Linked DNA regions of Homo sapiens: regions 1, 2, 3 and 4 are each linked to region 5. Evidence: fine-mapped expression QTL. A gene starts in region 5. Each other region holds a variant in brackets. All regions are shown on one strand. Distances are between the middles of the regions. Region 1 overlaps NTM (neurotrimin). Region 2 overlaps LOC124902794 (a long non-coding RNA gene). Region 3 has its middle 35 kb from the start of NTM. Region 4 overlaps NTM (neurotrimin). Region 5 holds the start of NTM (neurotrimin).

What was found. PIP is the estimated chance that this variant, and not a neighbour inherited with it, causes the effect. A credible set is the group of variants that fine-mapping cannot tell apart.
Region 1: its variant is the best candidate, but not a certain one, in a credible set for the expression of NTM in testis (GTEx, PIP 0.60).
Region 2: its variant is the best candidate, but not a certain one, in a credible set for the expression of NTM in lung (TOPMed, PIP 0.86).
Region 3: its variant is the best candidate, but not a certain one, in a credible set for the expression of NTM in lung (GTEx, PIP 0.81).
Region 4: its variant is the best candidate, but not a certain one, in a credible set for the expression of NTM in fibroblasts (GTEx, PIP 0.75).

Annotation. Positions count from the first base shown.
Region 1 is chr11:131,500,414-131,505,519 of GRCh38, reverse strand. All of the region lies in intron 1 of NTM (neurotrimin), which reads right to left. Among named protein-coding and RNA genes, the nearest start is that of NTM-AS2, 38 kb to the left of the region's middle. The variant A/G (reference allele first, on the strand shown) is at 2,866.
Region 2 is chr11:131,294,493-131,299,598 of GRCh38, reverse strand. The region is part of intron 1 of LOC124902794 (a long non-coding RNA gene); the gene reads right to left. Among named protein-coding and RNA genes, the nearest start is that of NTM, 74 kb to the left of the region's middle. The variant A/G (reference allele first, on the strand shown) is at 2,756.
Region 3 is chr11:131,333,336-131,338,441 of GRCh38, reverse strand. No RefSeq gene overlaps it. Among named protein-coding and RNA genes, the nearest start is that of NTM, 35 kb to the left of the region's middle. The variant T/G (reference allele first, on the strand shown) is at 2,916.
Region 4 is chr11:132,006,319-132,011,424 of GRCh38, reverse strand. All of the region lies in intron 2 of NTM (neurotrimin), which reads right to left. Among named protein-coding and RNA genes, the nearest start is that of NTM-AS3, 110 kb to the right of the region's middle. The variant C/T (reference allele first, on the strand shown) is at 2,944.
Region 5 is chr11:131,367,781-131,372,886 of GRCh38, reverse strand. NTM (neurotrimin) reads right to left here and starts at 2,272. Exons shown (of 9, transcript NM_001352005.2): 1 at 1,999-2,272. The coding sequence starts at 2,080.

The DNA of each region.
Region 1 (5,106 bases), 130 kb before region 5:
TAATCGCAGGATGTCACTTTCAACATCTTGGGAATCTTGTTAAAATGCCAATTCTGATGGAAAACGCTTGGTGATGGAGACTGAGATTCAGCATTTGTAACTATTCCCAGGTAATGCTGAGGCTGCTGTTTGGGGAACCATACTTTGATGATCAAAGTCATTAAGTCTTACAAAAATTAAACACAATGAAATATATAAAGTCCTTAACACACTGAGAATAATTATTCAATAAATGATCGTTGTTAGCATTACTTGTTTGATAGTTACCATAGACCACAGATTAAAGAGCATTTTTAAATCCCTACTTTGTGCTGTGAGCTGAGCTTCACAGAGACATCATCAAATCCTCAAACCACTCCTGTGGGACAGGTAATATTACCCCTATTTCTTAGATGAGGAGAATGACTCAGAGATTCGTGACTTCCCAATGGTCAAGTAGAAGGTAGGTTTCATGACTCTGAGACCACACCTCTTTCCCCTGCAGTATACCCCACTGTGGTATAGAGCAGCACCCTCAACTCATGTCAACAGCCTCTGCCTGTTGTCCAGCCAGGTCAGATAGTGCGGAGGAGAGGGTGTGTTGATTCTGAAAAGAATCAACATATTGTGGATTCTGAGACATGACCGCCAATTGCCAAAAGAGGAGAGAAAGCTTCCTCCAGGCTGGAGCGGGGTGCAGGCAGGCATATGTGCATGCAGGAGGAGTGGAGGGGGTGGACGGCTGATGGATGCACAGTGCGGGAAATTTACAGATCAATCAATAGACAGAGATCCAGGGAGTCTGGCAGCTGACAGACATGTGAGGGCACGCTGACACCCAGATGGCCATGGAGCACGCAGGCCAGGAAGAGTTTGGAAAGGCCAGCAGTGCAGGTCGAGGTAGACAAGCCTAGAGACAAACAGAGCAGCAGCACACACAATTTTGGTAACACCATCTGTGGGTGAGAGAACCCCAGCGCTGTGTGAAATGGACTCCAAATTCTATTTGGAGCTGGAAACGGGTGGTATGGTGTGCTCAGTTATTTTAAATCCCTTCCAATTCTCTGCCAAGAAATTCGATCCGGGAAAGCCATTCCTGCCAAGCCCCAAGGGGTTTACCAGGGCTGAGCTGGGTAGCTGCGGTCCTATCTGATTTATGGCAGGTGGGGGCAGCCGAGAGCCACCAAATTTGAGGGTATCCCCATGCCAACAGAGGAGAGGTGTTTATGTTTTCTCCAGAATGTGAGCCCAAGGGGTCTGCATTTGCAAGTCAGAGTGGGAACAGGCAACCCAAACAGGCTGAATTCAGGCATGCGCTGTGCGAGACAGAGATAGGAAGGGTGAGGACAGAGGTGGCTGGTGGGGCTCAAAGGGGACTGGCAGGGGGATGTGGAGGGACAAGCCACAGTGTCCAGAAGCAGGGGCCTGGAGGAAGCTGGTGGGGCCAGGGAGCCCTGGATGAGCAGTCCTCAGAAGTGTGGGTCAGAGACAGCTGGATCAGCACCTTTTCTGGAATCCAATTCTTATAAGGCCATGTCTTTGGACTTCATGCTCTGACCCGCCTGGCCTTAAAGCACTAATGACCCTAACAAAGGTAGTCAGTGTAGGGGTTGGTGATGGCATCTGAGTTAATTCCTACCCCAGTTAACTTCACCTCTAATAGAGAAGCCAAATGGATTAAAGAAACACGCACAACCCTGCCACTTAGCTTAAGTTTAAATGTATAACCTCAGTGGGGCGTGGTGGCTCGCACCTGTAGTCCTAACACTTTAGGAGGCCAAGGAAGGAGGATCACTTGAGCCCAGGCTGAGCAACACAGTGAGACTCTCTCTACAAAAAAAAGAGAAACAATTAGCCAGGCATAGTGGAGTGTGCCTGTGGTCCCAGCTATTTGGGAGGCTGAGGTGGGAAAATTGCTTGAGTCTGGGAGGTTAAGGCTACAGTGAGCCATGACTGTGCCACTGCACTCCAGCCTGAGCAACAGAGTAAGACCTTGTCTCAAAAAAAAAAAAATTGTAACCTCAAATATGAAGTGGACTTGACACGACCCAATGATCCCAGTCCGTTTTCCTGGTGCACCTGCTCTCCTTTCCTCCACCTTCTGCTGTCTCTGACCCTCCTCGGTGAGGACCTCACTTCTTACATTACTGCAGAGCCAGAAACAATCAGATGGAAACTGCAACACTCAACCTTATCCTCCCCAGATCTACCCTGCATGTTCCTGCTCTAACCTCTCCTCTTATTTCTGCTGAGTGAAGCTGGTCTACCTGCAGACAGCCCCTTACCTGTGCACAGGATTGCATAGTCCTCCACACCTTCCCCCAGGCACAGGACATCAGCTCTCATTCCTTTGTACCCTCATCATCAACGGCTCCCCTTACTGGAGAGTTCCTGTGGGCATGCACACTCTGCACACAAATGTCTTTATTTCCTCTCATCTGGAGATAAAGAGGCAACAGCCAAGGCCTCCCTGACCCTGACTGCAGTCCCTCTCCTCTCTGACCCATAAACCTCCCTGAGAAAGTTGTCTGTTTCCTCTGTCTGTACTTCCTCATCTTCCCTTGTCTCCTGAACAGAATCCAGTGAGGATTTGATCTCCATCAGCCAGAGGGAATCACATCTCGCCATGGATATGATGACTTCTGCCCTGCCAAAGCCAAGGTTGATCTCAGGTCTCTCGTCCTCCACCCTGCACTCAGGCAACAAAAGCATTCGATCAGATGCTGTGTTACACAGCTCTGATGTGCCGGGCTGGTCCTGGGTGCCAAGGATACATCTATCTGTCAATAAACAAGGGAGGCAAAAGTCCTTGCCTTTTGGAGGCTACGTTTTAGTTACAGACGATGACTTCAACAACAAGCAAATGCCTGACATGTGTGAGCAGGC[A/G]ATGAGCGATATGCATCCACGTCAGCCTGGGGTGTGGGTCAGGATGCCAGAGACGCCGGGGAATGCAGCAGCATGGGCCCCGACTCCTCACTCTCTTGCACCCCTCGTCAACTTGCCTCTGTGATAGCACTTTCCCCCGCTCCCAGCTCCTGCCTCCCCTCAGCCTCATTTTCTGGTCTCTTCTCCCTTTTTTCCCAGATCTCCAGGTCTTGGTCAGTTTTGGCTGCTCTAACCAAATGCCATAACCTGTGTGTCTTCAACAACAGAAACTGATTTCTCCTAGTTCTGAAGGCTAGAGGTCCATGATTAAGGTGCCAACAGATTCCATGTCCAGTGAGATCCCACGTCCTGGTTCAAGCAGCAAGGACTCTCTCTCTCTCGAGGCTCCTTCATAAGGGCAGCAATCATGATGCCTTCATGAGGCCTCTCTGCCATGACCTAATCACCTCCTAAAGACCACACCTCCAAACTCCATCCTCTGGGGGGTGAGGATTTCAACATGGGAATGTTGAGGGGACACAGACATTGGGACCTCAGCAGCACGCCCTGTCTCCACACTCTCTCTGTGAGCACTCATCTAGTTGGGCACTTTAATACCATCTACAGGCTGATGTTTCCAGCCTCACCATTCCCTTGAACTCCAAACTCATAGACCCAGTCACCTCTGTGACATCTCTGTTGGAAGTCTAACAGATGTCTCAAACTTAACACTTTCATACCAGAACTGTTGATTCCAGGCTCATCCATTGATCACATGTGCACACACACACACACACTCACACACACATACATACCTTCTCTTCCTCTGGTATTCTCCATCTTAATAAATGGTGTCACCATCCAACCAGTTGCTCAGGCCAAAACCCTTGCAATCGCCAGTGATTTTGCTTTCTCTAACTCCCTCCATATCCAACTCTGCAACAAATGCTGTTGTAACTGGACCTTTACAGCACACTCAAGATCTACCCAATTTTGCATTGCTTTCACTGCAACAGCCCCCTTTGCCATCGTTTCTTACTTGGACTAGCAGAAATATTGTCATTGGTCTCTCTAAAAAGCAGCCAGCCTGACCTTTTGAACATATAAATCAGATCACAGCTTCCCTCTCCTGAAGACCCTCCAGTAGCTCCCAGTATGCTCAGAATAGAGCCTGAGGTCTCTAAGCATCATCTCCTGCATGTTCCTCCTCACACCCAGGCTCCAGCCCAGGAGCAATTCTCAAACATGTCCTCAACCCCTTCTCCTGGCTGGAACATTCTCCCCTGGCTCTTTACACAGACAGCTCCTTTTCATCTGCCCCAAACTCACCTCCTCAGAGGGGCCTTCATTGGCCACCCTACCAACAGCTATCGCCTCCTCTGCCAAAGCCCCCAGGCTGCCCCTCCTGCCTTTACATTCTTCACAACACTCACCACTCTTTGACAGACAGGATTTGCTTCCTGCCTTTATTCACCCTTAAGCTGTCTGTTACCCTCCCCAGAATGCAAACCCCTTGAAGGCAGAGATTTTGCTGCCCTCTGGTTGGATTGTGGTTACGTATCTAGGCAGGTCCGGAAGTCAGACCATCTGAATTTGGATTGTGGTTATGTAACTAGGCAGGTCTGGAAGTCAGACCATCTGAATTTGACTTCTAGCTCCACCACTTAATAACTATAGGGTCACATTTTCTTAATCCAGGATTAAGAAAATGTGGCACATATACACCATAGAATACTATGCAGCCATAAAAAATGATGAGTTCATGTCCTTTGTAGAGACATGGATGAAGCTGGAAACCATCATTCTCAGCAAGCTATCACAAGGACAAAAAACCAAACACCGCATGTTCTCACTCACTCATAGGTGGGAATTGAACAATGAGAACACTTGGACACAGGAAGGGGAACATCATACACCGAGGCCTGTTGTGGGGTGGGGGGAGGGGGGAGGGATAGCATTAGGAGATATAGCTAATGTAAATGATGAGTTAATGGGTGCAGCACACCAGCATGGTGCATGTATCCATATGTAACAAACCTGCACGTTGTGCCCATGTACCCTAGAACTTAAAGTATAATACAAAAAAAAAAAAAAAAAATATATATATATATATATATATATATATATATATATAATAAATAACTATAGGGTCTGAAGCAAATGACTTCACCTTTCTATGCCTCAGTTATCTCATCTGTAAAATGAAGGTAATAGTCAGCATACTTACTTACCTAGCAGGACTGTTGTGAGACTTAAAGGAGA
Region 2 (5,106 bases), 73 kb after region 5:
CAAATCTCATTATTTGCTTTAATGTGATTCCCTGAGTGGTGTGCAGTAAGAACGAGGCATAGATAAGGCTGGGCTTCTCTGCAGAACTGTGGGTGAAAAGGAGGGTTGTCGGTTACTTCCATGGATCCCTGCCAAGGCCAGACCTGCACAGAGGTGGGAAAGATTTACCAACATGGTGTGATGCATGCAGGTGAGAGCTTGAGTATCACCCATTCGCCTACCTCTTCCTTCCACCCAGGATGCCCTCCACCCACCCTTCCAGACAGAAGCAAATCAGCTACTTAGTTGGGGTAACAAAATACCTAACTATACACAACACTTTTACATATATCAAGTGTTCAGGGGCCAGAGCAAATCCCTGGGGCCATAAGCACTAGAACAAGTAAAACTGGAGACTGGGAGTGCGAAAATCAGAAAAGAACATGGAAGGCCATGTGCTGGGGAGGTGGGGTAGGGCAGAGCTGCAAGTGGCCTTGGACCATAGGTCTCAGTGCACAGCCCCCGAACCAGCAGCAGCAGCACCACCTGGGAACTTGTGAGAAGCCCCCGACCTTGGGCCCCATTACAGACGTCCTGAATCAGAGAGTCTGGAGTGCGATGCATGGTCTGTGCTTTAAGAGGCCTTCCAGATTATTCTGGTCCACTACCCTAAGCATAAAGGAGTCATATGACAGCATCAGGTAAGAAAAAGGAAAAACAAGGATGTTGAAAGGACAAATGTGAACATGGAAAACACAAAATGTGCCTCGGACTGGTCCTATGAACACCAAAATGAGGACAAGTGATGTTCCGGGCTGCCTCACCGAGAGAAGAGGTTGGTTCTGGCAGAAGAAGGAAAATGCCATCCAGTGATTAGTGCCAGGCCCTAGAGCAGCAGTGCATAGGCCCCGAGACTGGTATTGCCTTGTACCAGTTATGCATGATGGGGGAAATTATGCCCTCTGCCTATGATTTATCATCTACAACAGGGAATGATGATAATAATAATACTTCCTTGAGAAGGTTCTTTAAAAAATTACAAGACTTAACACATGGAAAGAAGCCTTTAAACAGTGTCAGGCACAGAGTAAGTGCTGAATAAATGACAGCTATGGGTATCATTTCACACAGCTGCATAGAACCACATAAAAGACAAGGGAGTAGCAAACAGAATCGATTAGCTGACCAAAATATAGTCAGATGAGTATGTACATTAGGTTATATTAGCGAAGCAGAAGAGAGTTCATAATGCCCAAAATGAATCAAAGAAGCAAATGCACCAAGAAATAGATTGTTATTGAATCACAGGTTCATTTATTTATTCACTCATTCAGCAAACATTGAGTAACACTCCAGGGGTGCACTGTGCACCTTGGGCAGTGCAGAGATGCTGAGAAGCAGGAGTCTAGTGAGACCCTAGGGTCATAAAGACATCAAGAAATGACACTAAGCAGAGAGGTAGCTTCAGGTTAGGCCCAGAGATTGATGGGGATACCAGGAGGGGCATCTGAGGCAAACCGGGTGGCTTGGCTTCCTGGAGGAGGTGCCAGGGGGGCACAGCAGGTACACAGGGCAACATGAACAAAAGATACCGAACTGAGAAATGGTAGCATGAAAGCAAAACAGACTGGGCTGTGGCCAGATGGTCACAAGGGAGCTGGAGCTGCAGAAGCGTTGTGGCGGGTCTTACGGGCCAAATTCACGAGCTTGAACATTATCCTCCAAATGGCGGGGAGGAATTAGGAGATTTAAGAAGAAGAGTGATGCGTTCATGCTTCAGCTCTCTTTCTCTGAGCCATGAGGAGGCTGGGTTTGAAAAGAGTGAGGCCAGGAGGAGGGAAATCAGCTAGAAGCTCTAGTTCAGGGCTCACCGTCTCTCGCTGGGGTTCCATTGCCTTCTGTCTTACACAGAAAGTGGCATTTCATCTGGGACTCGAAGGATGTGAATGGATCGGCCTCAAGGTGGCCAGAACAAAGGGCAACTGGGAGAGGGGCTGGCAGGCTGAGTTTCTAGGACAGGAATGTGCTCAGGAACATAAAGAAGTGAAGTGTGGTCCTGGGGAGAAGGTTGGAGCATGAGGAGGAGAGGCAGCCTGGGCGAATGCTGGTAAGGAGCCTGGATTTTATTCCAAGCATAATGCAAAGCCAAAAGAGGGCTGCAAGAGATAAAAGGTACGAAGCTAGTGCAGTTCCTCAAAAATGTGCTGGCTGGACTCTGGTTATTGGAGGCAGGGTGAGAAAGAACAGAAATAGGGACGCCGACTGGGAGGATGTTGCAGGAGCCCAGGTCATGGTGGAGGTGACTGTGGCCAGGCTGGTAACAGCTCTGATTCTGGGTAGGGCTGGGAAACGTGGGTGGTAGTTTAGAGACGTATATCTAATCCCACAATGCTGTGAGGTAAGTATTAGAAATCCCGTTTGCCAGATGAGAAAACTGAGGTCCAAAGAATTTCAGAAACTTATTCCTACTCTCAAAGCTTCCAAACCAGCTTCCCTCCAGATAACAATTCCCACAATATCTTCCCTACAGCCCTGAAAGGAGCATTTGTTTGGTAGGAGGGGCTGGACAGAGATGACCAAGGAAATAGGGGTAAATGTCTGTGTAAAAAGAGCCAAAAATAATCTAAACCTCCTTCTTAACCATCCGTACCTAACACATTGATCTTCTCTCTGCAAATGTATTTCCTGTATTCTTCCCTTTCTGACTTAAGCTTTATTGTTTATTACCGAAGTCTTTGAAATACCTTGAAGAGCAGAGAAAAAAGCTTCTCCCCTC[A/G]GGCTGTCAGAGGGGGAGCCCAAAGCAACGCACAGCAGAAAGAAAGTTTTGGGAAGTTACCTGTTTTATCTGAAAGATTTATATGAATGTTGTACTCTGCTCACAATGCAACTCTGCTTATTTCAATGTTTAAAACTATGTTTTAAATTGCAGCCAGGTATCACAGGATTAAACAGAAGGTTTACCTTCCCGAATCATGCATGGTAATATAATGAGTACTTTGTATTGCCGCTTACTGTGTACCAGGCACTAGTCTGAGTGTGTCAGATGCATTGCTTCACTGTGAACGTGGGTCTCGTTATGTCATTTGCAGTTGAGGAATTGAGGGCTCAGAAAAGGAAGTGACTTGCCTGAGGACACTGCCTGTGCAGACTCAGGACTCGAATCCAGTTATGTCTGTCCCAGCACCTGTGCATGTGGCCATATTCCTCAGGTATGGTAGCCCAGGGTATTACAGAAAGCTTGGCTCTAAATGTATCTGAAAGTTCATGCACGAAGATATGATTTCTCATGGTTCAGGTGGATTAGCTACAGAGCAAGCTCAGGCTTTTAGTTTTGGGGGCTCTGTAGAAAGAGGACGACAAAGGCTGACAGGAAGAAGTTCATGTGATTCTGGTAGCTGGCAGCTCAGCTGTCCTGTCCGTGTGCCCAACATAGGCACTGGTGGCACGTGCTCAGGATGACAATAGCAACTGGGCTTTCTGGGCACAGGGATCATCCACTCACAATGGGACCTAGCTCAGGGCTAAAGAATGAAGCCCGTTTCAGCCCTTGCTGGAGGAGGTTGGTAAGAAAGAGTAGGTGCAAAGCCCAGATAAACAGATCCTGGTTCTAAAATGAACACTAGCTCTGAATGTAAAAACCAGGAAATCCACCCTCCAGATTGAACACCGTGTAGGAATTGTTGGGAAGAGGGAGAGGAGGCTGAAATTTGGTGGGTATCTGGAGTTGCTGGTCTATCCCAAGCTCATCATTGCAGTTTCTTCTCCACCACCCAATGGGCCTGAGCTTGCCATTCCACTGCTGTTTCTAGCCAAGAGGTAGGGAGGGAGGAATACACTCAGATTAGGAAGCGTGAGTGGCTATAGCTAAGGGATGCTAAGAAAGACAATGATTGACATTACATAATAACTCTACTGTTTTAGGCCGGGCCCGGTAGCTCACACCTGTAATCCCAGCACTTTGGGAGGCTGAGGCGGGCGGATCACCTGAAGTCAGGAGTTCAAGACCAGCCTGGCCAACATGGCGAAACCCTGTTTCTACTAAAAATACAAAAATTAGCCGGCATGGTGGTGGGTGCCTGTAATCCCAGCACTTTGGGAGGCTGAGGCAGGCAGATCACCTGAGGTCAGGAGTTCAAGGCCAGCCTGGCCGACATGGTGAAACCCTGTTTCTACTAAACATACAAAAATTAGCCGGCATGGTGGCAGGCGCCTGTAATCCCAGCTACTCGGAAGGCTGAGGCAGGAGAATCGCTTGAACCCGGGAGGCAGAGGTTGCAGTGAGCCGGGATCGCACCATTGCACTCTGCACTCCGCACTCCAGCCTGGGTGACAGAGTGAGACTCTGTCTCAAAATAACAATAATAATAATAAAATCTCTCCCGTTTTATAGCAGAGGAGGGGTATGTGCAGCCTCTTTTTTAACCCATCCAGGGTTAAAACCCCTGTTCCATGGACCAGCCCTCCTGCAATTCTACCTTAAATTACAGTGTGCTCCTGTTGTAATTCAATGACTGTTTATATTTCTAATGAAGAAAACCAGCTTCAGACAAGTCTTCAAACAACAGCCTTCACATGTAAAACATTGTTTTAAGATGAAAAGAATTATGCCAAAAATCCTAAGGCAATTGGCAACCTTCTTCCTTTTCTCCCAGAATTCTAAAACATCTTCATGCAGGTATAATAGGGACTGACACAGGATAGAGGGGCCCATATCTGAGGGTCTCCCTTCTCCTGACAGGCCTCTTGACATTTTGTCATGTCTTATTCCCTGCTGTCCTCCAAGCCAGTTGAAAACAAAGCTAGGGCCATTTTCACTCAGTAAGTAACAAGGGGCCAAGATTCAGGCAAAGAGAGGAATGAGTTCATTTGCAACCTCAGGGCTGAAAACAGAGTCTCCTTGTAAATCCAAAACAAATCAAGAGACAGGAGGCAAAGACTGAGAGTAGATTGTCAATAACCATCCTGGGAAAAGATTAATCTGGAGCTTGGGGTAACTAATGTGAGTGTTGAGATAATTCAGGACATGTTCAATATGTTAAAAGGCCGTCACTACCCTGAGACACGGAACACCTGGCTCTAGAAGGGATGGAGGAAGCATTAAAGGGAGGAGAAATTTCTAGTAAATCA
Region 3 (5,106 bases), 34 kb after region 5:
CCCACTTCACTCTGCACTTCTTGCTGCTGCCATGTGAAGAAGGATGCATTTGCTTCCCCTTCTGGCACAACCGTAAGTTTCCTGAGGTCTCCCTAAGCCTGCAGAACTGAGTCAATCACACCTTTTTCCTTTATAAATTACCCAGTCTTGGGTATGTCTTTATTAGCAGGGTGAGAATGGATTAACACACAATCCTATACCGTTTCTGGGTCACAATGGACTGAACACTTAATCTCTCTGGCCTATGATTTAGTCTTCGATTAAATGTGAGGTTTAGACTAGCTTAGGATTTCTCAACTTGTGTTCAACAGAACATTAGTTCTACAGTGTGTTAATGCGCATTAATGTGAAGAAAAAAGAAGAGGGTGCTGTGGTCAATTAAGTTTGGGGGATGCTGGGTTAAACAGAGTTGAAAGGTTTCTTTACTCCAAGAATTCTTGGAGGTTTTAATATGTTAATGTGACTTCTGAGTGTCCAACAGCTGACTATAAATAGGAGAAACATTTTTCTCAACTTATCTGGCCCTAGGATTTGGGGGTTTTGTATTGGTTTTGTTTTATTTTTGCTTTACTTTGTTTTGTTTTGGTTAGCATCAGTAGAGATACAGAGATACTTTGGGAAGACTAAACTAGATGGTCTTAAATATCTCTTCCAATTCTCCAAAATTATGGGATTCTATGAAAGACCATTAAGTGGCCATTATGCTATTTTATGCTTGGGGATGGGCAAGAGAGACTAGCCTCATGTTTAGTGACAGCTAGAAGTATAACACCATGTGTGTGTCTTTTTTATTCCATCTTTATGATAGTCTAGCAGGGTGAGCCCTATCATTCTAATCTTACATGGGAGGATATTGAAGTTCTAAGGGATTAAGCTAATTTCTCAATAAATGCAGCTTGGATATTGTGGATTCTCTAGTCAAACAAAGGGATGTATGGATGCAATTTTAAATAAGATGACATTTAAGCAAAACCTTGAAGGTTGTGAAGGAGATAGCTGTGCATATACTTGGGGAAGAGTGTTCTAGGCAGAAGGAATAGCCAGTGCTAAGTTAAAAGATAGGAGCCTGCCTGACCTGCTTGAGGAATAGGAAGGAGGTCAGCAGCACTGGGATTGGAAGGGGTAGAAAGTGGGGCATGTTGGGCCAGAAAGGTAATGGGGCAGCAGATATCAGGCAGCACCATGTACCAATCTTGGGAGCTCTGGCTTCGACTCTGGGGGAATGGAGATCAGAAGAGTGACATCATCTGGCTTACGACTTTAAAAAGATCACTTACTTGGTCTATTGGATTTAATACAGATTCTAGGGAGGTGTGATAGTCATTTGTACTGCCCGCAAATTATTTCTGGTTCTCCTGGAACATGAACAAGTTGTACTTTCTTTCTCCCTTAAAGTTAGGCATGGCCATAGGACTAACTTGGCCAAAGAACTGCAAACAGAAGTGGTAGGTTTCTCTTCCTGGTAGAAGGTTTAGGGGCTTGTGGGCAATTTGGCCTCTACCGTGTGATTGGTGACGAGGGCAGCTTTGTCAGTCTGGGTCCAGCGGAGGCTATGGTGAGCAGAGCTCCTCTTCCAACCAATGCCGAATGTGACAGTGAGTGAGAACTAACCCTGGTAGTTAAGTCACAGAGAAGTTGGTGTGACTTATTTCTGGAGCATAATATAGCCTATTCTTACCAATATAGGGGCAAGAGGAGAAGCATAAGATACTGCAAGAATTTAAGTGAGAGAAGATGTTGGGTGAGTCCAGGTATGTGTATTAGAAATGATAGACGTGTTTGGGTTGTGGATATATTTTGAAGGTGGAGCCAAGAGTTTCCTGCTGGATTGGTTATGAGGTGAAACAGAGGGAGAGGATTCAGCATCAACTCTATGTTTTTTGGCCTGAGCAATTAGCCAGACAGAATTGTCATCAGTTAGCATGAGGAAGACTAGGTAAATGAGAATTAGAAGTAAAAAAGGTTTGTTGTGCTTTTTACGTTTAATTTTCCACTTCATTCTTTTGAAAATGTTTTATACTTTCTGGTTATCTGCTGACATTTTTGAGTTTAGCTTTTATCTTGTTGGATATAGTATGGGAAATCATAAAAGGTTTTAAGTAGTAGAGTGACAGGATCCAATTCATGAGTCCTTTAGAAAACTAAGTGCATGAAGATAGCATCTTGTTTTGTTTTTCTTTTCTTTCTTTTTTTTTTTTTTGAGTGAACAGACTAAAGTGCCTAGAAAAGATATTAGCAGCATTTTATGTGACTCCCTTTTGGAGCCAGGGTTCAAAACAAACCATTTGGAACTCATTGATTTCAGTTTTCTCTTTATTTTTTTCCACCTTAATTGAGTCCTTTGACTCTAAAGAGCAGATTGATTCTGACTCTTCTAATTTTCTGCCTGCTTGATGATTCTCACCTATCATGTCTGCTTCCTATCTACAGACAATCGTTATTCCCCTTCTTCTGGACACACTAAAATTAGAGCATCTTGGGAGGACACCCAGTCTGATTCCAAATTCCCTTTCTTTTGGTAGTTTGCTCTGCGAGGTTCCACTCAGCTCTCTTGACAATGCCAACATCCCTGAAGCCCTTAACCAGGCAGAGGTTGCAAACTGTCACCCTCATGGCCAAATCCTTCTGCATGATTCCCAAAGTTTTGTTTGACCCACATAGTGATTTTAAAAATTGTCACTATTTAAAAATAGGAAGACTTTTTTTTGGAATTCAGAAATGTTACCCACACCAAGAACCTTCTTTCTGAGTCTCACGCAAAGGTGTGTTAGAACTGAGTAGCTTTGGGTTCTTTAAAAGGATCAGGTACTCATCGGCACTCCCTGTCCTCACCTGGATAGCTGAATTCATCCATGTTACCTGTGCTGTTCTCTGCTTTCAAGATTGCAGAGGCCTTCCATATACATTATTGTATT[T/G]AATCCTCACAACCTTGTAAAGTCAATGTTTTATACATCAGGAACCCATCCTTCTCAGAGCTGTATTAATTGCACTTTTTATTTGAGTACATGTAAGGTTACTTAAGTGTTTCTATTTGGATTCTCTAAGGGCCAGAATTAAATATTTGGCATTCTTTATTTTCTCTAAACAGAGTGCATCCTGGACTTTGCTCAGGAATATTCCTCCTTGGAGGTGTCGGGTGGTGCCATGCTGTGAGGAAAAGCATGAACTTTGGGCTCATGCTGTCTCACACATGTGTTTGCTGTGTCTCCTTGAGCATGTCATTTAATTATGCCATGTCATGATAGTCTCATCTATAAAACAAATATAGAAAAATAATCTTTAATATTTTCTCAGTGTTTTTTTCTACCTATGCAGTGTAAACTGGAAGACAGTAAGTGACAGGGAATGAGACGGAAAGAAGTCGAGGCCAGGTCTTGGAGGAGCTTGCCATGGTCACAGCAAGATAGTCTTATTCACTAAGCCAATGACTTTCAAACTTTATGTCTGGGAGCCCTCAGGCTATGTAGACTTGTTTCTCCTGCAAGGCCTCTCCTAGGGGAAAGCAGTGAGTGGCCTGAGCCCCATACCCCCAACCTCATTCTGTTGAAGGATGTGGCAAGCCACTGCACAGTTTTCAGTGGAAATGCACTCTATGGAGGATAGATGTGAGGGGACAAACCTGATGACAGGCAGGAATGTAAATGGGAAACACATGCTTAGTAAGAAGAAGAAGAAAAAGGCTTATGAATGAAAAGTGAGCCTAGAAATGATGACTAATGATTGGGTAGCCATGAGCATCATGAAGAAGAAGGATCCAGGCTGAATTCCACATTTTTTATTTCATTAATGGTTATAAGAAATTAAGGAGTGGGGATCATCTGGGAGCAAGAAATAATTTTAGAGAAATGGGAATGAACATTAGAATTATGATGTACCCATGGAACATCTAAATTAAGGTATTGATCATGATATTGGAGGAAATGTTAGACAGTCAAAACAAGCAGATTCCCCCACATCCCCGCCACTTAACTATCCAAGAGCTTGGGAGTGAGCTGGGGAATGTTGCCTTCTGTCTCTGACCCGATTTCATCATTCACTAAGTAATGCACTTGTGCATTGAGAAGATCAGAGAAATAATAGACATTCAAGTATTTAAACATCATTAGGTTGTATGTGAATGTTATGTTTTACTTACTGGCTCAGTCAGTAAAAATGAGAAGCAAAAGCAAAAACTTATGGCATTTTGAAGTTGGAAGTTCCCCAGAGGTGGGTCCACTCTACCTTGGATCTTAGGCAGGACCCACACTACGATCTGCAAGGGAATCTCTCCACAGCTGCTCAGCACTCTGGCCAGCCTACTCTAAAGGACCATGGAAAAAAATGATGCCCAACCATTGACTCTGGGGCTTTCTGTACGGTCCACACAGAACTTACCTCTTCTTAGAAGTCTTCCTTTGTCAATTAATCATTTCTTGGGCAGCTTCTTTATTATCTAAAAAAAATTACTTAATTTGTGCCTATCTGAGATTTCCTTTGCGGTATCCTTAAGAACACTAAATGAGGAGTTATAATATGTGCACACGAAAGCAGACACTTTCCAGTTATAGAAAACGAGGGGCTGTGATTTAACTTCTCCCACTGCTTCCACCCCCCCATTTCTTGATTGCTGCCACACAAGTAGCTATTAAACAGTGTGAGATATGGTAACATGCCATGTTTTATGTTTTATTTTCATCACATGCAAGTGATTTATTAAGAAAGAGCTCCCGAAGGATCCATTGGAGGTAGAGGGACAGGACAGGGAAGAGGAGAAACCAGACAAGCAGGAGACCCCAGAGGCTCGCTTTAGCCTTACCTCAGGTAAGGCATTCCTCAGAGCTGTGCCCACGGGGGAGCTGGGCTTCCCTACTCCCACACCTGGTAGTCACTCTCACATAGGTGAATGTAGGCACAAGAGCATTGTAAAATGACAAGCTCTCTCAGCAGTGCTCGCTATGCATGACGAGGTTTTAATGAAGATGTGTGGACTCAGGAGCAGTGAATACACTCGCAGCAGAAACCCAAATGCTGGTGGTGAGTTCACCTGCTGTTATCATTTCTTCCTCTTGCTCTGGGAAAATCTCCTGCTCATAAGGTTTGTGCCACAGGTTGGTCAAATGAGGATGC
Region 4 (5,106 bases), 640 kb before region 5:
GACTCCGCTGCCATTATCTGTTTTCCATTTCTTAACAGAGATGCATGAACCCTTTCATTCCAGAACACAGTTAGCATTCAGTTAACTTCAAAGAGAGGTTGATTTGCTAAAATCCATTTATTTATACTTCAAGTTAAATGTTAGAAACAGTGCAGTAAACTGTTGTCAAGGAGTTCCCCTCTCAGTTTATTATTTTTCAAATCATAGTATCAATATCAAGTAGAATTTTCACTAGAGGTGACTTTATTCAGTTCTTCAATCACATATTTAATGGAACAAATTTTACAAATTGTAGACCTAATTGTTATAAGGGATATTAATCATATAAGAAATGGTTCCATGCTTGCTGGTGCTTATAATTAACATGTATGAAAACAACTCAATGCCACAGAGCATACATTGTGATAATGCCCATACGAGATCGACATGTAAATATCAGGTCACTTTCATTTTATGGGAGTAAGATGAAGGGTGCTTAGTGGTTATACACAGATAAGTAACTGAGACTAAGGGGAGTCTAGGAGCCCTGTCCAAGAGCTGCGAATATAACCTCAGTCACTTGGCACCAATAAATGATACTTCCATCAGGGAATTCTTAAGAGAGATAGCACACAGCTGTGCCTTCAGGAAACTGTACAATTGTGATAGGCAAAAATGCAGAGTGGAAACGCTTTACAGGGAGACAGAAAGACACCTGACCAAGTCCCCAGACTGGAGCAAGTACAAGAGGTCCTTCTGTGATAGCATCAGTTGCCGTAAAGAGTTCATATTAGAGCCTAGCAGAAGAGAATGGAGGAAAAAAAAAAAGACAGTAGAAATGGTCACTTAATAAAGAGCTTCAAATGCCAAGATAAGACAGGACTGGCCATTGGAGGGAAAATTCATTAAGGTTTGCTCAAGGAGAGGAGAGACATGACCAAATCACTCTTCTAGCACAAAGAAGTATAGCAGAGGTCCGAGCAGACTGGAGACTAGAGGCTGGGAAGGTATGAGGCAGAGGGTCTCTGGGAAGAGCAGCCAGGGACTGACCTTTAGACTGTATCTGTCATCCTATAACTTCACCAGTCTAGCCTCAGAGAAAAGAAATCCTTATCCTTGTCTTCTCCACCATCGGAGTTACCAAGGTGAGCTAAAAGCTGGGGCTATAGCTTTGTCATACATAAGTTGAGTTTGAAGAACTCAGTTCTGTGTTCAGTATGTTTTATAGGAGGGAGAAATCATTTCTGAAACACTTAGTTCCAAATAGAGAGTAAGATCAAAGCTAATATGAAGCAAGAAGCTGCTGAGGTATTACATGAACAGCCGTGGTGAGGATAAGTGTTTGGATTTTCTAAAAATTCCAAAATTATCTGTATTGATCTCTACAATCTAGTGACTTAAGAAATTGTCTGTCCATTTTCTTCACTCATGCTGTGCAGAATTGATATAACGTGTATTCGGTCAGCTCAGTGACCTTCCACGGCCATTTGAGCCACACATTCAGCAGTGAACTCAGAAAAAAAGGGTAACCTTCTCTGAGGGGCAAGTTCCTTAAACCACAAAATATGGTCTCTCTTCTCCATCCTTCTGTTCCTCTGAGAACCAGCATCATGATCACCTTCCTACAAAATTGAAAAGGCAAAACACACCGATGACGGATGTTTTTAATCACAAATGTAATAACCCATCACGTCTCATGACAAAGAAAGAGGTCAACAGGGAGGCAATTTGGTCTAGGAGTTTAATAAAAGCACGCTTTCCTTGGAAGCAGTCTTATAATGCCATCTTCCAAGTGTGGCGTGCAAAACAGAGTGCACGAAAGCAGTGCACCGGAATTAGGGCTCCAAAGACGTCCCTGGGGGCTTGTGCTCCATTCTCAGGACTGTCAGAAAGCCTCAGAGCTGCCGGGATGGCACAGCCAGGGCACTGGACCAGGCACAGTGTCAGTGCCAGAAACGACATCCCTTTCCACATCACTGTCTGCAGTAGGATTTTATTCCCTTTCTTCTGCTCACACTCTTTCTCTTAGGCTCAATCTGGCTTTACATCGGCACATACATACCCATCTGACAGGCTCTCCCATGAAATTTGCTGTTCCAATCTCAAACTGTCCCCCAGCTTAAAGACAGCCAGGTACACAATGAGGAGTAGGTCAGTAAAAGTCAGGGAAAATTAGGACACTTCCCTGGGTGGCAGGAATTAACTTACAGGACTCTTGCAGGCACAGGCGTATTTCAGGGGAGCACACTGTGTGTTTAAAAATGCTTTAGAAAAGCAGGTTTCCAATTGTAGCTTTTCCTAACAAAAGACAGGGAGACTTCTGCCAGAGGTAAAGCTTCCAGGCTGATGGCAGAGGGAGGGCTGGACCATCAGTCAGCGGGAAGCAGAGTGTGTGCAGGACACATTCCCCACAGCGCTGATCTGGTGTCTGCCTGCCTTTCTTTCAGGATGTGGATTTCTGCCTTGGTGTCCTGCTGGTGAATTCTCTCCAGTTATAAAACATTTTGTTACCTTCATTCGCTCTTAATTAAAAAGGGAAAAGAAACTCCTAGGGCTCTGACAACAGGAAAAAAAAAAAAGAAAACAAGGAAAGAAAGAAAAGGAAAAGAAAAAAGGAAAGAAAGGAAAAAAATGAAGAGCTCTTTGAGTTGCTGAAATCAAACGGTCAGATAACCTGATGTGGCAAGACAGAAAGGACAAAAAAAACAAAAACCATGGAGTCATTGAAAATGATTTTAATCTTTGTGAGCAATGTGGATTCTGTGAAACAGACATGTTTTCAGGGGGAAATGGGGAGCATTTGTAATGCCAGGGAGGAAAGGTATAAGATTCACAGACAGAGGCTCCAAACCCCTCAGCACTCACATCTGGTGTTCATTCCCCACACTTCTTAGGCTACTAGATGGTTCATTCTTTCCACAAATATCTATAAAAACCTGTCATAGACTCCACACTATACTAACG[C/T]TTTAACATTCAGAATCTTAGAAAAAAGTAAATACATAGTCAGCAATATTGATAGTTTTAATTTCCTGAGTCCTATCTGAGGTCAGCTATATTAGGCACTTGACATTCATGGTCTCTTGATCCTCACACAAGTCCTGCCAGGAGGGACAAAGACCTTAAGCATATGGATGGAAAACCAAGACTCAGAAAGATTAAAGTCAGGACAATAGAATTTTACAAATGCAAACCTTGTCCAAAGAGATGCATCCCATAAGTGGCGAGGGGTAAAGTGAGCGTTTGTTCTCTCATCTGTCTTAGACAACAGTCCACCACGTCATGATCCCCATACAGTGGAGTCAAGAGCTAACCCCAATTCCCTGCTTAGTCACACTGTGCCCCCTCTTGCCTTGCTTCATTTGGGGCCTGAACAGAGGACTAGGTGTATTTCCCCAAATTCCTTGTTACAGTATAAGGCTTATTCTAAAATCGAAGCAACGCCCACCTAACATTTTCCTTTCTACTCCTCATAGCCCTTCCCTTCTTTGACCTCCCTTATATCAACTCTAACTCCATCCAGGGTTATTCTCACCATCTACCTTTTACCTCCATTCTCAAGTTGCAGAGATTTCTAGGCAAAAAATTCATCCTCAGTTGGCCCCTCACTTTGTCCCCCAGGACAAAGGCAAGCTTTGTGTTTTAGCTGACCTGAGATGAAAATCCAGCTCTGTTGGACTCTATGTTTGATGCTCTGAATTATGATGTGCCCCAAACTCATAAAACCTGATACACAAACACAATTCACAAAGCAAATGCAAATCAGGTGGATGATTATTCCTTCACAAAAGGATTCACCATAGATTTCTTTAAATAGTAAGCTTCTCTGATGCACTTATGATATGACTTGATTTTTCCCCCAGGGATACACTCTTTGCATAAATAAAGCAAAGCAGGCTGCAACAAAAGAGAGCATCAGAAATATCTGCCTGGAAACCTCACATTTCAGGGCTGTTTACTGAGTCCATAGCTGTTGACAGGCCCCAAATCACAAGTTGCTGTGCTTCGTAACGCTCAGCAGGAGTTATGCCCTCCTGACTCTCCTAGTGACCTAGTGTCCTGCTGTGCAGCCTGGCATCAGCTGGCGGTCTTATTTGTGCTCTTAAGTGATCCTGGGATGAATGAGCACCATTCCCTTATTGCCACTTATCCAAACTACCCTGTAGAATGTTCACCTTCAAAAATAAAGGGCCACTGAATAAAAGCCTTCAATTCCTGGCTAGGTTTTGCATTAAGATCAGACTCTGTAACAGTCAGGATAAGTAGGTTATGCCGAAATCGTCAACAACATGAAAGTCTCAGTGACTATTTCTCATTCACAGTAGACATCCATCACAGGTGTGACAGGGAGGAGCTTTTTTCATCCATTCACTCAGGAACCCCCAGTGGGGCAGTCACAGTCTTGAAAGTCACTGGATGTCATGACAGAGGAAAGAGAGTGCCCAGGAGGGTCTCGCACTGGAAGTAAAATGTTTAGCCCACCCACAGGGTGACACACGTCATTTGTAGCTGCCTCTCATTGGCCAGCACTAGTCAATGTTCTTCTCCACAAAGGAGGAAGTACAATCCTACCACAGGAAGTGCTCAGGAAGTGGCACCCATGATCACCATAGGCCCACAGTGGTGCCCCAGGCTATTCTATAACCACAGAGGACAAGGGGCTTGAGATCCTGATACTGTGGAGGACAAATGCATCACAATAGTTCTGTTTGACCTGGTCTACACTCATTCTTTGGAGGAGATTCCTAGTTATATCCCTGATTACACCAGCCTCATAAGCCTCACCCCCAAAGGAAATGACTGCAGAGCTCTCCTGAATTTAGAATAGGTGCCTAGGCACACACTGCTTTGTGGACTGCCTCTTCCAGGGCTGTCTTTAAGTCTGAGAATGAGGTTTTATGTGCTTTGCTGAAGTTCCCAGTCCTGCAGAGACACCTTTGTCCTACGATGTTCTTGCAATAAAGCCTTTAATCTATTTCAAAAAGAGGCTGCCTTCTCATATTCTCTTGGCTCTTCTCATTGTTGGGTTATTATTTTCCTCTTTTTTATGTAGATTGAAACATTTTCTGCTTCCCAAATTTTCCCTCCCTCTGCTAGCTTTTTCACACAGAAGGAAGGGAAAAAAACCAC
Region 5 (5,106 bases):
GGCACCACCACTTTGCTACTCATCTATTCAGAGATGATTCAAAGTATGAGCAAATATTATGCTTCCCTGCATTTATTCTGATGAAAAAAAAAATCACGTATGCTAATTTATATGTAAATTCAGTATGGCCCTGGGGCTCCTGGCATGCAGCCAGCAGGGCTGTTGATGGTGGAAGTTTGGTCATTGTCTCCAGTTTGATGTTACAGGCAGAAGAGACATGGATCTCGGGACAGATAGAAATGACTGAGGGCTTGGGACCTTCCCTCTCCCTACCTCTGACCCCTCACCCTACCCCTTGCCTGCTTAGTTTTCATTTTTGCTGTCAACCCCCACAGAAACTGCTTTTCCGAAACTGCCCGATCCTGAACTCAGCTTCCCCACTTCATTCTTGTGCACCCAGAACAAGCAGGGGTGCACACACACGCACGCACACACACACACACTGATACTGCTTCATATTATATAAGAGGAGTCAATCGAGGATGCCTCCAAGTTGATTCCCTTCACTCAAACACCCACCAAAGCCCCTAGGGGACAGCAGGGAATCCTGAGGCCCATGCCTCCTGGGGTTGGGTGCAGCAGACGACATCATGGACATCCCTGCAAGATTCACCACCTTGGACTTCCTTATCACCCGACACAGATCCCTCCTGTCCCCACCCCTTGCCTTCTTCATCGAGCCCCAGTCAAGGGTGTACACATTTGATCCTTCCAGCCTGGTCTCTCTGCCCACCTTACGTGGATCCACACTGCAGCCACTGCAACCTATGTCAAGAGGACAGCAGCAATCCCTAAATCCTAACCTCGGAGAAGAGCCAGCAGGACTACAGCTCAGGACTCAGTCCAGATCAGGAGAACTCCATATTGCAGGGGGAGAAGAGGGCGAGGGGGTGGGACTCCCCATCGTTTTTCACCGGGTCAGAGGGAACTTTCCTCTGGGAATACAACTGCATAGGACTGAGCCTCACCTCCCAAGAGAGGGCTCCTCCTCCCGGAGCCCTGCTGGGCCACCCTGGGAAAGTTTCTCAGCTTGTCTCGATCCTTACGAGTTTTAGCTGTGTTTAATATAAAAGAGGCAAACTAGTTACCCCAAAGGACAGGGCAGGTGGGAGCAAGAAGATTAGTGGATAATTCTGTTGCTGGAACGAACAGACGTGAGAGCCGGGATGGGGTGTGGGGAGGCACGGTGCAGCAAATGGACTCAAGGTGGAGGCCGATTCCAAATGCACAGAACACAGCACTGGGGACATCAAAGCTTGCACTCAACTGCAGCCCCCAGGGCTCCCGGCTCAGCCGATAAATAAACAGAAAATTAGCATTCGACTCTTATTGCCTCTCTCCCTTCAACTTCGAAAAGCTTTTTAGAATTTCAGAGCCCCGGCTCCCCTCGCTTCCACACCTCCGACCCCAGCCACAAACACACCCCCGAACACATTTAAAACTAATACAGTTGTCCCCCACTGCTGCAAATTGACTCATCCCTTGCAGCTGGATCGCTGACCAGAACCTCACAGGAAGCACCTGATTCTTTCTAGCCTGCATTTTCCCCTTTGCTCCTTTTAAAAGCTTTGCAAGTTCGCTGGCCGATATTTAAAGTTTCCTCTTGTAATTTCTTCCCAGTCGCATAAGCAACACATTAGCAACCCTGTTGCCCTCCGAATCTGTCATTTCCCCCTGCTTACATGTGTGCTCCGTTGTGTATGTGTGCAAGAATGTGCATGAAGCCAGGGAGCCTTGCACACAAGCACAGTCCTAACAGGAGCACCAAACACATTTTACTTATGCACATACATATTCCCCCATTCCGGTAGCAGCCAGAATCAAATCAATATTCTCACAGCCTAGTCGGGAGAATGAAGTCCCAGCCATGCTGTCTAAACGCTCTCTCCTCCACCTGCAAACAGCGCAGCACAGCCGACTCGGGGAGTCTGCAAATCTTATAAAGCACACTGTACAATTCCTGGGTCTACCGAAGGCAAATCAATAGCAAGCTCTTACCTTGGAAGAGACACAGAGCAGCCAGCCCCGTGAAGATTGCCCAAGAGATAGAATTGTGCATTTTTGGCTGGATGGTTTTCATGATTTTTTTTCTTCTTCTTTTTCTTCTTTTTTGTCAGGTTCGGTTTTTTTCTTTCTTTCTTTCCTGATAGATTGTGTTGCTCTCAAGCTTGTGCAAGGAGATTTAAATCCACTGTTTTGCTGAAGGACACAACAAGAAAGCCGAGGGTGTGAGAGAGTATGACTTCTCCGTAATTATCTCCACTCATACTCTGGCACTGAGACACATTGTACAATCTGGCCCTGGACAGCCCTCCTACAAGCTGCAATCATTGGTTCTAATCCAAGGATTGACAGAGCTACAACACACGCGCGCGGGCACACACACACACACACACGCACACACACTCTCAGGAATCATTTACTGGGCAAATCAGGCTAGCTGATTAAAGAGACAGGAGCCTGGAGAGATAGAATGATAAATGCCACTTTGCCCCTTCTATATTACTTTCATTTTTTAAACTGACAGTCTCTGAGTCTTCTGAGTATCAGAAAATCCCTTTCCCCCTGGCATTCCCTGGCCTCCTGAACTCAGATTCCCTTTGCACTGGAAAAATCCCATAGCCAGCCATGGCTTATGGGAAATTTTAAAGGGACATTTTCATGCTCAGTGAAACTTGTAAAGATGAGGCAATTTTCATTTGTTGGTACCTATTTTCCCCTCCAATGGAAATATCATTCAGTGACAGCTTTTTTTTCTCTCTTTCATCAACCTTTCTACTTAGTTGCTTTGAAAATAGTAAATAACTTTCTATTTTCTCCTCCTGTCACTTCTGTTTCAGAACATCTATGTTACTCCTCTTTTTCATTCACTTTTTAGAAGTCAATTTCCTAAATTCATCCATGTGTATATGATACAATGGAAAGGTACAAAGTACCTGGTATTTGAGAAGAAGCTCTATAGTCTGAAGATGGAGAACCTTCTTCAAAAGAAAACAAAGCAGGAGTTTATTCCCCATGACTTGGTCAATCCACATCCACTAAAGCAATCATAGAAGCATCTGTGATTTAAACTGCAGCGAGAAAGATTCAGGGTAGACATGCGGAGGGGCTTTCTGAGTGTAAACTTTGTGTAGTTCCTCAGACAGTTGAAGACATTAACCTCCTTGGTGATAGGAAAGAATAAAAACCGAACAGAAATAATCTAATGGACATAAATGATTTCTTAAGAGGTCTAATTCTAGGGCCTGGAAGTTTATTCTAATCTTTGGCTTCCCCTTATGAGAAGCAAGTTAGAGGATGTGAACAAAAAATCTAGAAAATGTAGCTCCTGGCTGGGCACTGTGGCTCACGCCTGTAATCCCACAACTTTGGGAGGCCAAGGAAGGCCAGTAGCCTGAGCTCAGGAATTCGAGACCAGCCTGGGCAACATGGTGAAACCCTATCTCTACTAAAAAATTCCTTAAAAATATCTGGGTTTGGTGGTGCGCACCCGTGGTTCCAGCCACTTGGGTGGCTGAGGCAGGAGAATTGCTTGAGCCTGGGAGGCGGAGATCACAGTAAGCCAAGATGGCGCCACTACAATCCAGTCTGGGTGACAGAGCCAGCCCCTGTCTCAAGAAAAAAAAAAAAAAAAAAGAAAAGAAAAAGAAAATGTAGTTTCTCACAGAACCTTCCTTAGCTAATTCTGACACATTCATACCCCTACTATGCCTTGACACACATTTTAAAAATATTCTTCTAGAACTCCACCGCTAATTATTATACTTCCTTGTAACCCCATAAAAATGTTCATGTATTTTCAAACTGCATAGAAGAAAAGTACTCATTGTCTGTTTGTATTTTAGTGTACAGAGGTGAAATGAAAACATCACTGCCATTTTGCACATGTCTAAGACGTACGATTTACCTTGGCTTTTTTCTTTTTTCTTTCTTTTTTGTTTTTGTTTTTGACAGACTCTTGCCCCGTCACCCAGGTTGGAGTGCAGTGGTGCAATCACAGCTCACCGCAACTTTGAACTCCTGGGCTCAAGGAACCCTCCTGCCTTACCCACTATGCCCAGCTATTTTTTTTTTTTTTTTAATTTTCTACAACATAGTAGAGATGAAGTCTCACTATGTTGCTCAGGCTGGTTTCAAACTCCTTGCCTCAAGCAGTCCTTCCAGCCTTGGCCTCCCACAAGTTTACCTTGTGTTGTGTATGAATAGGGACAACACTGCCTGGAATGTGGGATCTTGTGACCTTGAGAGGAAGGGGCCCTGGGACCTCAAGATCTGGGGACCTCAAGATCCTTCTCATAGTTCTGCACAACTAAGGGACCTCAGGCAGGTCCTTTCACCTCTGTGAACCTTGGCTTCTTGTCTATAAAATTGTAGAACTGGAATAATTTATTATACTCCTTCTCATTTTAAAGATGTTTTATGTTAACTGGTATTTTTTTTCTTCTTGCCATTAAGTTCTAATTCACATATCTATCAAAATGTCCTTGATATCGTGAGCTCCCAATGGACAAGAATTTTATCTGTAGATGAGTCTTTTTGTGCGGTGCTCAGCATAGTGACATGTGTAATTAAATGCTTTGGAACAACTGTGACGGCAGGTGATAACAGTGCAGTGCAGAAGGAAGGTGGCTTCCTTTCACCACCATTTCATTTCTCTCCAGAACGATGATAAAGATCATGGGCCACTGGTAAGTCTTTAGTCCCAATCAGGAGAGGTGGACAATAACATTTGTAAATGTCCTTACCCTGAACTGTAATAAATCTATACAGTTACCAATGTTTATTAAGCTCCCAGGTGTGTACAGATAATAAGAAATTAATCATCGGAGTTGATATTTATTGATATTTATTTGCAATGTGCTAGACATGATACTCAGTGTTTTGCATGCATTTTTCTCATTAAATAATCACAACCTATGAAGTGGTGATATTATCATCCCCATTTTATAAATGAGGGCATTGAGGCTCAGAAAAAGCTTGTCCACAGCCACACAACAGTTAAGGAATGGAATCAGGATTTAAACCTGAGCATTTTCATCTTAGATCAACTTCAATAATAATATCCTGTGCTAAATACTGTGAGGGACTCAAATAGATATCAAGCAT